2 separate regions of the Homo sapiens genome follow, and region 2 is linked to region 1. Evidence: fine-mapped expression QTL. A gene starts in region 1. The other region holds a variant in brackets. All regions are shown on one strand. Distances are between the middles of the regions.

What was found.
Region 2: its variant is fine-mapped to the expression of PDE6D in whole blood (TOPMed, PIP 0.94).

What each region holds. Positions count from the first base shown.
Region 1 is chr2:231,779,291-231,784,661 of GRCh38, reverse strand. It overlaps PDE6D (phosphodiesterase 6D), which reads left to right and starts at 3,380. Exons shown (of 5, transcript NM_002601.4): 1 at 3,380-3,597. The coding sequence starts at 3,548. It also overlaps a transcript of COPS7B not described here. RefSeq lists enhancers at 3,354-3,583, 4,134-4,213 and silencers at 3,794-3,843, 3,967-4,190.
Region 2 is chr2:231,703,305-231,708,675 of GRCh38, reverse strand. PTMA (prothymosin alpha) reads right to left here and starts at 151. Exons shown (of 5, transcript NM_002823.5): 1 at 1-151. RefSeq lists enhancers at 43-102, 1-103, 104-741, 1,381-2,019 and a silencer at 343-742. The variant T/C (reference allele first, on the strand shown) is at 2,172.

The DNA.
Region 1 (5,371 bases):
AGCTAGTGTTAAGTGAACAGGGCTATGGAAGAGGAGGGACAAATATGAGAGTGAGAGGAAGACAAGTGAGTTTAGTGTGACTTCATAGAAATTCCAGCAATGCCTCTACTTCCTCTAGAACAATGTCCAGACTCCATGGCTGCAATTTGGATTTAGTATTTTGGTTTTTTTTTCCCTTAAGAGACAGAGTCTTACTCTGTCACCGCGGCTGGAGTGCAGTGGCACTATCATAGCTCACCTCAGCCTTGAACTTCTGGGCTCAAGGGATCCTACCACCTCCACCTCCCAAGTAGCTAGGACTAGAGGTGCGTGCCACCACACCCGGCAAATTTATTCCTTTTTTTTTTTTTAAAGATGGGGTCTCACTATGTTGCTCAAGCTGGTCTTCCCTGATCTCAAGTGATCCTCCCACCTTGGCTCCCAGAGTGCTGAGATTACAGGCGTGAGCCACCACGCCCAGGCAGTGGCTGCACTGAAAGCCCTTCAAAGTGTGCCTCCCTCCTAACTCCAGCTTTGTCGCACCCCACCCCCTCCCCCTTCTCAGTCCAAACTCCCATGCCCGGCACAACTTACACCCTCCCTCTCAGACACCACACCTATGCTCAAGCTTGCTCTTTTTTGGAATGCTCTTCTATCAGCCTGTAAAAAACCTGCCAACTCTAAAAGCAAAGATTTCTGAAATCCAATGCAAAAAACACTAACCATAATAAAAAGCACGGAACTATTGCACTGTGTTAAAATTAAGAATTTCTGCTTGTCAGATGCAGTGGAGTACACCTATAGTCTTACTATAGCTACTTGCGAGGCAGAGGCAGGAGGATCACTTGATCCCAGGAGTTCGAGGTTGCAGTGGGCAATGCTGGTGCCTGTGAATAGCCACTGCATTCCAGCCTGGGCAACACAGCAGAGACCCCATCCCTCAAAAATATAATTTGTTTCAAAAGACACCAGTAAGAGAGTGAAAAGACAAGCCATGCCTTGGAAAAGATATCTGCAAAGCATATATCAAAGAACTCCATATCCAGACTGTAAAGAACTACAAATCAATAAGAAGACAGCCCAATTTTTAAAAGTTGGGAAAAGAACAGGCACTTCACGAAAGAGGACGTTCAACTAGCCAACAAGCACATTGAAAGGTGCTCAACATCAGGAAAAATGCAAATAAATACCTTAATGAGATACCACATTCAGCCAGAACGGCTACAATTAAGAAGACTGACAACAAAACTCTTGTGTTGACAAGGATAAGAGGCACCTAGAACTCTCTCATATTGCTGGCAAAGGCGTAAATTGGTACAATCATTTTGAAAAACTGGCAATGTCTACTATCACTGATCATGTGCATACCCTCCCTACACACTAGCAATTCCTCTCCTAGAAATGTGTGCAAGTGTCTACAAAAAGAAACATGTAAGAATGCTCACTACGGCTTTGCTAATAATAGTCCAAAAAATAACAACCCAAATGCCCGCCAACAGTGGAAAAGATAAATTGTGGTATAAACATACAACAGAATACTATTCAGCAATTAAAAGGCTACACACAACATGGATGAATTTCACAAAAATACTGATAAAGTAAAAAAGCCAGACACATACTGTACATACTGTATTATTATATTTAACTGGAATTCAAGAACAGAGAAAACTGATCTATGGTGATACAGTCAGAAGAGTGATTATCTCAATATGTAAGGATGTAATACTGATTGGGAGGGAGCACTAAGTGTGCTAGAAATGTTCTATATCTTGATTTGGGTAGTGGCGACAGGGGTGTATACCTATGTGAAAATTGTTCCCATACTGTATGTTACACCTCATTAACAAAAAAAAAACTTTTTTAACATGGAAAAAAAATTCAAGTTCAAATGCCACCTTGTCCATTAAAGTTTTGCCAGCTGCAATGAACCTTTTCATCAGGGCCTCCTTAGCATTCTGATGTCATTTCTTTATGCCATTTTATCACACTCCATCTTGAATCTCAGTGGAGTCTCCTTATTTCCCTAAATATATGTTCATCTTCCTGGTGGCAGTGACCATGTCCTTCACCTTTTACCCACTCAGTGCCTGACAAATAACAGGCTGAAAAGATATTTGTTGAATTACATGGAAGAAAAAATTGGGTGAGTTCCCAGATGGGTGAAAGTGGGGACAGGCAGAGGAAGGAAGGCCAAGAGAAGGACAGAGGAGGTTTCCAAGGAAACCGTGGCTCACACTGTAATTTTACCTACTTCCTGAAATCACATTAAATGTCACCTTGAGTGGCAAAAAACAAAACACCAAATCCTACCTAGGCTGAAAATAAATAAATATCACACTCCCTCACTCGCAAGAAATCCACCAAATAAATGCTACCTAATTCTGGGTGTTTCAACAGTGGATAGGAAAACCGTTCAAGGAGAATAATTCACATTGCCATGCTGCTAAAAATATCACCTCCTTAGTGTGGTGCAAAGAGTCCAGACTGCAAGTCAGCCGACTTAGGGCTGAATTCTAACTCTGCCCGAACTTGCTGTGATCTGTGGCCAATCCCTTCGCCTCTCTGGGCCTCAATTTCCTCATACGTAACAACAGGGGATAGATTAGCAAAGTCCCTTTATGTTTTGATATTCTGAGTATACAATCCATAGCTCTCCCGGTGCAAACCAGGAATACAGCAAAAAACCCTGAAATACATGTAAAAGGCGCCTCAGACCAACAAACAAGCACGATTTGAAGAAGTCATTTTGTTCTCTTTCACGGTTTAATCAGTGTTTTTGTTTGTTGTTTGCAGCCTTACCATGATTTGCAGATGTCTGAGTTCCATGTAAACAGAAGTTAACTCTCTGCGGGCTGTCATCTTCTTTTGAGGGTGAGAAGGGTCTTCCCGTTGGGTTTCAAGTCTCGGGATTCCGAAACGACCAACTCAGCGGGCGGGTTTGTGAATTTGCGCACACTGCGCGGCACACTGGAGTCTAAGTTACAGAGGAACCGAGTGCAGGGGATGCTGGGATTTGTAGTCCCCGGGCCTCTTTGTGGTGCGCTGGGATCTGTGGTCCCCCGAGTGCGCCGCTGGAATGCTGGGAAATGTAGTCTCTGTCGCGTCGCACAGTGCAACTCAGCTGCCGTCTCAGACGGCTAGTGTGCTCAGTGGCTGGAGCAGGTCCCTAAAGCCTCTGCAGATCCGAAGCCAACCCTCCGCTGGGACAAACTCTAGGCAACAACACCAGATGAATATTGTGTCCTATGGGACTTCCCGGGGAGGGCCCTTCCCATTGACGTTAACAGTCCCCCTGCGAAGCCGCTGCGCGCTCCTACTGGCTGGTTGAGATGCCAATCGCCAAGGCTGGCTTTCCATTGGTTCCAGGAGGGCACTGCGAGGCTAGGGGGAAGGAGAAGGGATCAGAAGCGGGAGCTGAGGGGAGAGAGAGGCCGGTCCTGGTCTGGCCGCTGCGGCTGCTAGCCCGAGGTCTCCAAGCCGGGCTGCGGCTCCATCCTCGGCTCCTGGGCACCGTCTGCGAGGCTCCGCCGACCAGAGTGAGAAAGCCGCGGGCGGCGACCGCCGCATCATGTCAGCCAAGGACGAGCGGGCCAGGGAGATCCTGAGGGGCTTCAAACTGTATCCGTCCGGGAGCGGGGCGGGGCCGGGAGGACTTGGGAGGCGGCCGCTCACTGAGGAGACTGGCCGGGGGCGGGGGCCGCGCCAGGTGGGCCCCACAGAAGAAGGGCCGCGGGAGGGGAGAGGAAAGGAACAGCGTGCCGAGCACCCGGCGGGACCCGGCGCGAGAGGCGCCCCAAGGGGCGTCCTGAGGGAGGAAGGGGACGTTGACGGGAGCGCCGGGGGGTGGCGGGTGGAGACGGGGGAGCCTGGGGGACGGGGCTGCGAGAGGTGCCGGGCGTCGGAAACGCTGTCGGAGAAGCCGGCTGGGTTCCGATCCCCGGCCGGGACCCAGAGGCCGGGATGGGGCTGCGGCCCGCGGAGAAGGGCTGAGGGGGCGCGGTGGGCTGATCTCGAAGCCTAGAAGCCTCTTTGGCTATAAGCCTACCCGGGGAGCGGGGAACAGTGACTTGGAGCGGGCGACCTTGTGTGGGACAAATACCAGTGCTTTTAAAACTCTCTCAGGTCCCCCACCGCACCGCACCGCACCCCACCCCCGTCTGGTTTCCACAACTTCTCTTCCAAACTTGTGGCTTCTTCCAGGACTGGAGTAGTTGGGGGAGGTGGGGAAAGAGAAGTCCAAGATCGACCTCGTCTTAACACTCTTGGCCTTCTCAGGCATTGGTCACTGCTTCCCCCTCAGCGCCTCAGTTTTCTTTCCAGCAAGATGAGGACCATAGGCTTAGGTGTGGGGTGCCTCGCGCTGGGACTCCTAGCCGAGGTGTCTTTGCTCGCTCCTGTCGGTGCGGTTATGCCTAGCTGTGGTGGAGCTGTCCAGCAATGGTGTGATGTCGCTGGGGCCACGGTAGGATAGAGTGGGGTAGAGAAATCATTGCCTCGGGCCTGTTGTGGTGCCCCTTTTGCATCCTCTCCGTAAGGAAGCTTTGTGTTTTCGTGGAGTGTGTTAGTCTGTCACCATATGATGCAGATGAAAAAATGCAAACTTGGATATTCAAATTTTCCATTCTCCTGCCAACTTTAATCTCTTCATGCATCCTATCTGTAATCTATAGTACGAACGTTCTTAAATTGCTCCCTCAGTGAAAAGGTAGTCACCACTTCAGGGCTCCTCCCTTGGAGGTTTAGTAAAGCACTGTTTTCTTGGTATTCTGTTGCGTTTTCACAATGTCCATGTCACGCTTGCAAATTTAATTGCTTTGCTATAATCAGAAACCAAGTTGGTAATACATTTTAGACCACAGTGCAAAAAGGAAGTTTTGGATGTACAAGTGAGATTTTTCGAATGGAAATTGATCTATGCTTTTTAAAAAAACTAAAGGCTGTATCACCTTTGCATACTACCATCTGTGATAAACTTTCAGTACTTTCATGTTTTGGTTTAGTAGCAGCCTCTTTTATAGCTCCATGTGCCTTTCTGTGTTTCTCTCCATAATGGATCAAATAGGTATATAGGGATGACTGAAGTGCTGGAAAAGCTATGACATGGATTTTATTTTTCCCTCAAATAATTTATACTATTAACATCTAACAATGTAATAATATTGCTACTTAACATGCTTTGTAGACAGTAAACCGGAAACTGGAGAATTGAGAGATTTCAGAAGCAACGTTTTCATCTGATTGGAAATACCGTATTGCTGAAAAGAAGAAAGGCCTTTTTAATGGCTTTTGAACAAAGCAGAAAAGTTTGAGCTTCTCACCTTCAGTCTTAGCTCTTGAACCTGTTGAGAAAGAGGATAAGAGACAAATACGGAAAAGAGTTTCAGAAAGCAGA
Region 2 (5,371 bases), 76 kb after region 1:
ATTAAAAAGAAAGCGAGAGTTCAGGGACTCTGGCGATAAAGCTGCCGGAGTCCGCGGCGGCGGAGGAGGCGCGCGGCGGAGGCGGCTGCGGCGAGCAAGGAGGCGGATGAGGAACAATGCAAAGATGGCTTTTCAGAGCAGCCAGTGGGGGACTCACGCGGCGCCAGAAGCTTTAATATAGATTAGTGGGCGGCGCTCGGCTTCCCATGCCCGGCCGCTATTGGCTGAGCGCAGGGAGCGGGCGCTCGCTCATTGGCTCGATTCCGAACAATGGACAAGCGTGCTTAAAGCGGCAGTGCCCCGGCGCGTCCCGCGCTGCGCAGTCGCCGATCGCACTGTCATTCAAGGCCGGAGTTTGCCGGGTCTCAGCAGGGCCGAGGGCGCGGGGGAGGGGTGCGCGAGCGCGTTCCGGACGCGCGCTCCCGCAGCTGTTTTGCTGGGGCTGCTGACGCAGAAAGCCAAAGCGCGGCAAAGCTGCCCGCCCAACCCCCTTCCCTCCCTCTCCCGCCCTCCCCGCGGCTGCTCGGAAGGAGGGGGAGGGAAGAGGGGGCGGCGGGCACACGACGGCTGCCAGCGCGGGGGAGGGGAAGGCGGGGTGCTGGGCCGCGCTCGCCCCGGGCGGTGCCCAGCGCAGTGCCCGCGGAGGTGCCCGCCCCCCGCGCCTGGGCGCCTTGGACCAAGGATTGTCCCAGTGCAAGTGGACGGCAGCCCCACGACGAGCAACGAGGTCACGAGGCCGAGACCCGGGCACCTGGGCCGCCCCGTCCCTCTGCCATGCCCTCGCGCCCTCCCAGGGCAGGGCACCCCTAGTCCTGTGGGCAGGCGACCTCGATTGCCCACCATCAGGTCCGGCGTCCGTCGGCCAAGTCAGTCGACAAGCGGGCACCGTCCCAAGCACACACGGATTCATGTATCAAGCGGACTCGATGCGCGATGCCGGCTCCAGCCCTCGAGTGGGACAGCCCGCGGGCCCCGCACGGCATAGCGGTCCCCTCATTCTAGGTTTCTAGTTAGGGTCTGTCCCGAGCGGTCACTGCCGTCGCGACAGCCTCAGGGCAGCCTCCTCCAGGGGCCTGCCGGGCCATCGAGTCTACCCTTCTCCCACCCCACTGCTGGACTGCGATGGGCACATGAACATTACAGAGTTCCTCGGGAAAAATCATCGTCTCTGGAGCCAGTTGGGCTAATCTTTGGGGACTACCTGAAATTTGGGGGACCATTTAGAGAACCATGCGGAGCCCCGAGAAAGGGGAGCATCAAAACGCCACACTCAAGATGGCGCCGGGCTCGGCAAGCGTGGCGTGACGTAGCGATCTAGCTCACGTGGGCGATCCGAGAACAACAGGCTACGCTGGCCTTATCGCCACCGCACTTAGCTGTCGAACTAAGAAATCGGTTGTGTGGGAAAAAGGACCAGAATAGGTGGAAAGATAGTCCAGAAATTTACCTGTGCCACACACAAGATGGCGAGACGTAGGGTTCGTCCCTGTGCTGCCAAAAGGGGGCGCCCGACACGGAAGGCGGGACTCCGGAGACACGAGCGCACATTGGCCGAGAGTGGCGGGCGAACACAAAGTTGACGCTTTGCGTCCTTCCATTGGCAGTTTCTTCCGTCTGTCTCTCGGTTGCAGCCGAGCTGGGAATGGGGAAAACCCGGAGTGTGGGATCGTGGAGGGCGGACGATGCCAAGTCCAGCAGAGCTTGCGCTCGGGGCTAGAAGAGAGACTGAGTCTCCCTTCTCAGTTTCATTAGGTAATGGGCGACATGGCTCCGTCTCCACAGCGGGGCTTTGCTGAGCTTAGCACGCAGTCTCCCGGCGGGGAGGAGGCGCGCAGTGCCGGGCGCCACTCCGTCTCCAGTACGCGTTAGGCCCGCGTTCCCAGGTGCCCGTCTGGCCGCTGGACTGTTGGCCTTTCCGGAGCGAGTTTTACTTTAGGAAGAAGCCCGGGATCCCGGTAGTTTAGCCTGAAGAAACGTGGGGCAGATGCTGGGCAGGGCGGGGATACCGCGCCAACACCCGCTGCCCAGCGGTCGCCCTCCTATGCAGCGGCGAAGGGACGCCCGCTGTGTCTCCGCCCTGCCCCCAGGCGCCCCAGTGGCTGGAGGTGGCATTCTCCACTGGACGGGCGCGCCTCAATCCGGGGGACTTCCACAGTGCTGTTCCCGAGGAC[T/C]ACGCGTCTCAACTCTTTGTCGGGTTCCCTCCCTCCCACTGCCAGTCTGTCTTCACCGCCGCGCAGACCTGGGGCCGCCCTTCACAGAGGAAGGGCTCCTTGACCTCAGCCACCGTGACCCCCTCCTTTGTGTCACATTCTCAGAGAGTTGGAGGGATTATGCGTCATCGTAAACAGGGGGACAGAGCGCCTTCCACCTGCGGCGCATCCATTAAGTTCCAGTTACCCTCGAGAGGATTGTTTTTTCCACGAAACCCAGATGCAATGAGAGCCTGGCTTGTACCATCTCTAAGCATCGAGGCTTCCCCCTCGTCTGGGTGGTGGCCTTCGGGCAGTGGCTCCGGAAAGGCCATCAAGGCTTCCCCGTCGTCTGGATGGTGGCCTTCGGGCAGTGGACTGTGTCCATAGCTGAAAACCAGACTTGACAGTTCTGGATTCAGGCTGTTGTGGGAGCGGGAAGGTCAAACACCCAGAAGGAACTGATGAATGTGAATTTCCCTCTAAGAACTGCTTTGCCTGGCCGGGCGCGGTGGCTCACGCTTGTAATTCCAGCACTTTGGGAGGCTGAGGTGGGTGGATGCCGAGGTGAGTGGATCACGAGGTCAGGAGTTCGAGACCAGCCTGACCAACATAGTGAAACCCCCGTCTCTACTAAAAATACAAAAATTAGCCGGGCCTGGTGGCGTGCGCCTGTAATCCCAGCTACTCGGGAGGCTGAGACAGGAGAATCGCTTGAATCCGGGAGGCAGAGGTTGCAGGAGCTGAGATCACGCCATTGCACTCCAGCCTGGGCAACAGAGTGAGACTCCATCTCAAAAAAAAAAACAAAAAAAGAACTGTTTTCTGACGTTATTCCCATGCAGGTGCCTTTGCTAGAAGTGGGTGAGGAAGGCTCATGCCCATCTGGTTCCAGAACCACCACTTAAATTTCCCAAACACTCACTGAATGCCCGCTGTGTACATGGCAGTGAGCCTTTGACTCATGCTTCATTTTCATGTACAAGGTGGGTAGGACAGTTATGGAGTTGAACCATATGAAACTGATGTCTATGTAGGTGAAAACGAACTGAAAATCAACACATTTACAGGTTCAACTTCTGATATAACCCTCCTTTTAACAAATCAAAAAAGCAAACCTAGAGATTATAGCAAGGGACTTGGAGTTACCCACTGGATCAATGATGGAGCCGAGGCTAAGTCCTAAAACAGAGGAATCTGCATTTTTAGATGAGCCCTGGGGCAGAAGTTGCCCCCATGGACCTCCCTCTCATCCCAGGAGTGTGGTATCTGACAGCTCATAGTGGGGGAGTTATTTAGGCTATGAAGAACCGTGTTCCTTCAGCAACAGGTAGCTCCCTACCTCTTTTGCTGTTTCTTTTTTTTTTTTTTTTTTTTGAGACAGAGTCTCACTCTGTTCAGCCCAGGCTGGAGTGCAGTGGCGTGATCTCAGCTCACCACAACCTCCGCCTCCCGGGTTCAAGGGATTCTTCTGCCTCAGCCTCCCGAGTAGCTGGGACTACAGGCGTGCACCACCATGCCTGGCCAATTTTTGTATTTTTAGTACAGATGGGGTTTACTATTTTTGTATTTTTAGTACAGACGGGGTTTCACCATATTGTCCAGGCTGGTCTCAAACTCCTGACCTCATGATCCGCCCACCTCGGCCTCCCAAAGTGCTGGGATGACAGGCGTGAGCCACCGTGCCAGGCTTTTTTTTTTTTGAGACGAAGTTTCACTCTGTTGCCCAGGCTGGGGTGCATTGGCATGATCTTGGCTCACTGCAACCTCCGCCTCGTGGGTTCAAGTGATTCTCCTGCCTCCCTCAGCCTCCTGAGAAGCCAGGATTACAGGTACCTGCTACCATGCCCAGCTAATTTTTGTATTTTTAGTAGAGACGGGGTTTCACCATGTTGGCCAGGGTGGTCTCAAACTCCTGACCTCAAGTGATCCGCCCGCCTCAGCCTCCCAAAGTGCTGGGATTACAGGCATGAGCCACCACACCGGCCCTCTTTTGCTGTTTCTGAACAGACTATTCTTCCTGTCCTCTGTCACTTCCACTCATTGATACATCTCATGCCCTTTGTTATTACAGAGGAAGTCAGGCACTTTGGTGACCTTGCCCTTCAAACCCCCCAAGACAAGCTGGTGTGCCCTGGTAAGCCTGCTTTCCTGACCCCAGCCTGAGATACAGTGGGCTTCGGCTAGAGCTGCTGTGAGCAAGGGACCCAATATGTCCTCCAGGCATGTTTTGTTTTGTTTTGAGATGGGGTCTTGCTATGTTGCCCAAGCTGAACTCCAACTCCTGAGCTCAAGCTATCCTCGCACCTCAGCCTCCTGAGTAGCTGGGACAACAGATGCTTGCTACTGTGCCTGGCTTGTTTTGGGGGAATTTTCACAGGGACACCTCTGGGTGGTCTACACACTGTCCACATGGCCCACAGGCCTCTCCCCGCCCAGCCTGAGTAACACATTGATTTCATCTGCCTGGCCCTGTGGGCACTTCAGTTTGCAACTAAGCCTGCTCCTAAAGCCATTTACAACATATTTCTAATTGGTTATCTCACAAATCTGCTTGATCCCCAAAAGATCAGGCAGAATGAATTTTTAAGCTGCCTGGGTTCAAATGGCAGCCCTGACATACACTAGCTTTGTGAATTGGGCAAGTTACTTTCTCTCCTCTAAGAAACAGAGAGGACGGCCAGGTGTGGTGGCTCACACCTCTATCCCCAGCACTTTGGGAGGCCTAAGCAGGAGGATTGCTTGAGCTCCGGAGTTGGAGACCAGTCTCGGCAACATGACGAAACATCGACTCTAAAAATTTTTTAAAAATTAGCCGGGCATGGTGGCATGTGCCTGTAGTCCCAGCTACTCAGAAGGCTGAGGTGAGTGGATTGTTTGAGTCCAGGAGGTTGAGGCTGCAGTGAGCCATGATGGTGTCACTGTACTCCAGCCTGGGCAACACAGCAAGACTCTGTCTTAAAAAATAAAAAATAGGCCAGGCGCTGTGGCTCACGCCTGTAATCCCAGCACTTTGGGAGGCTGAGGCGGGCGGATCACGAGATCAGGAGTTCAAGACCAGCCTGGCCAACATAGTAAAACCCCATCTCTACTAAAAATACAAAAAATTAGCTGGGTATGGTGGTGCACGCCTATAATCCAGCTATTCTGGAAGCTGAGGCAGGAGAATCACTTGAACCCAG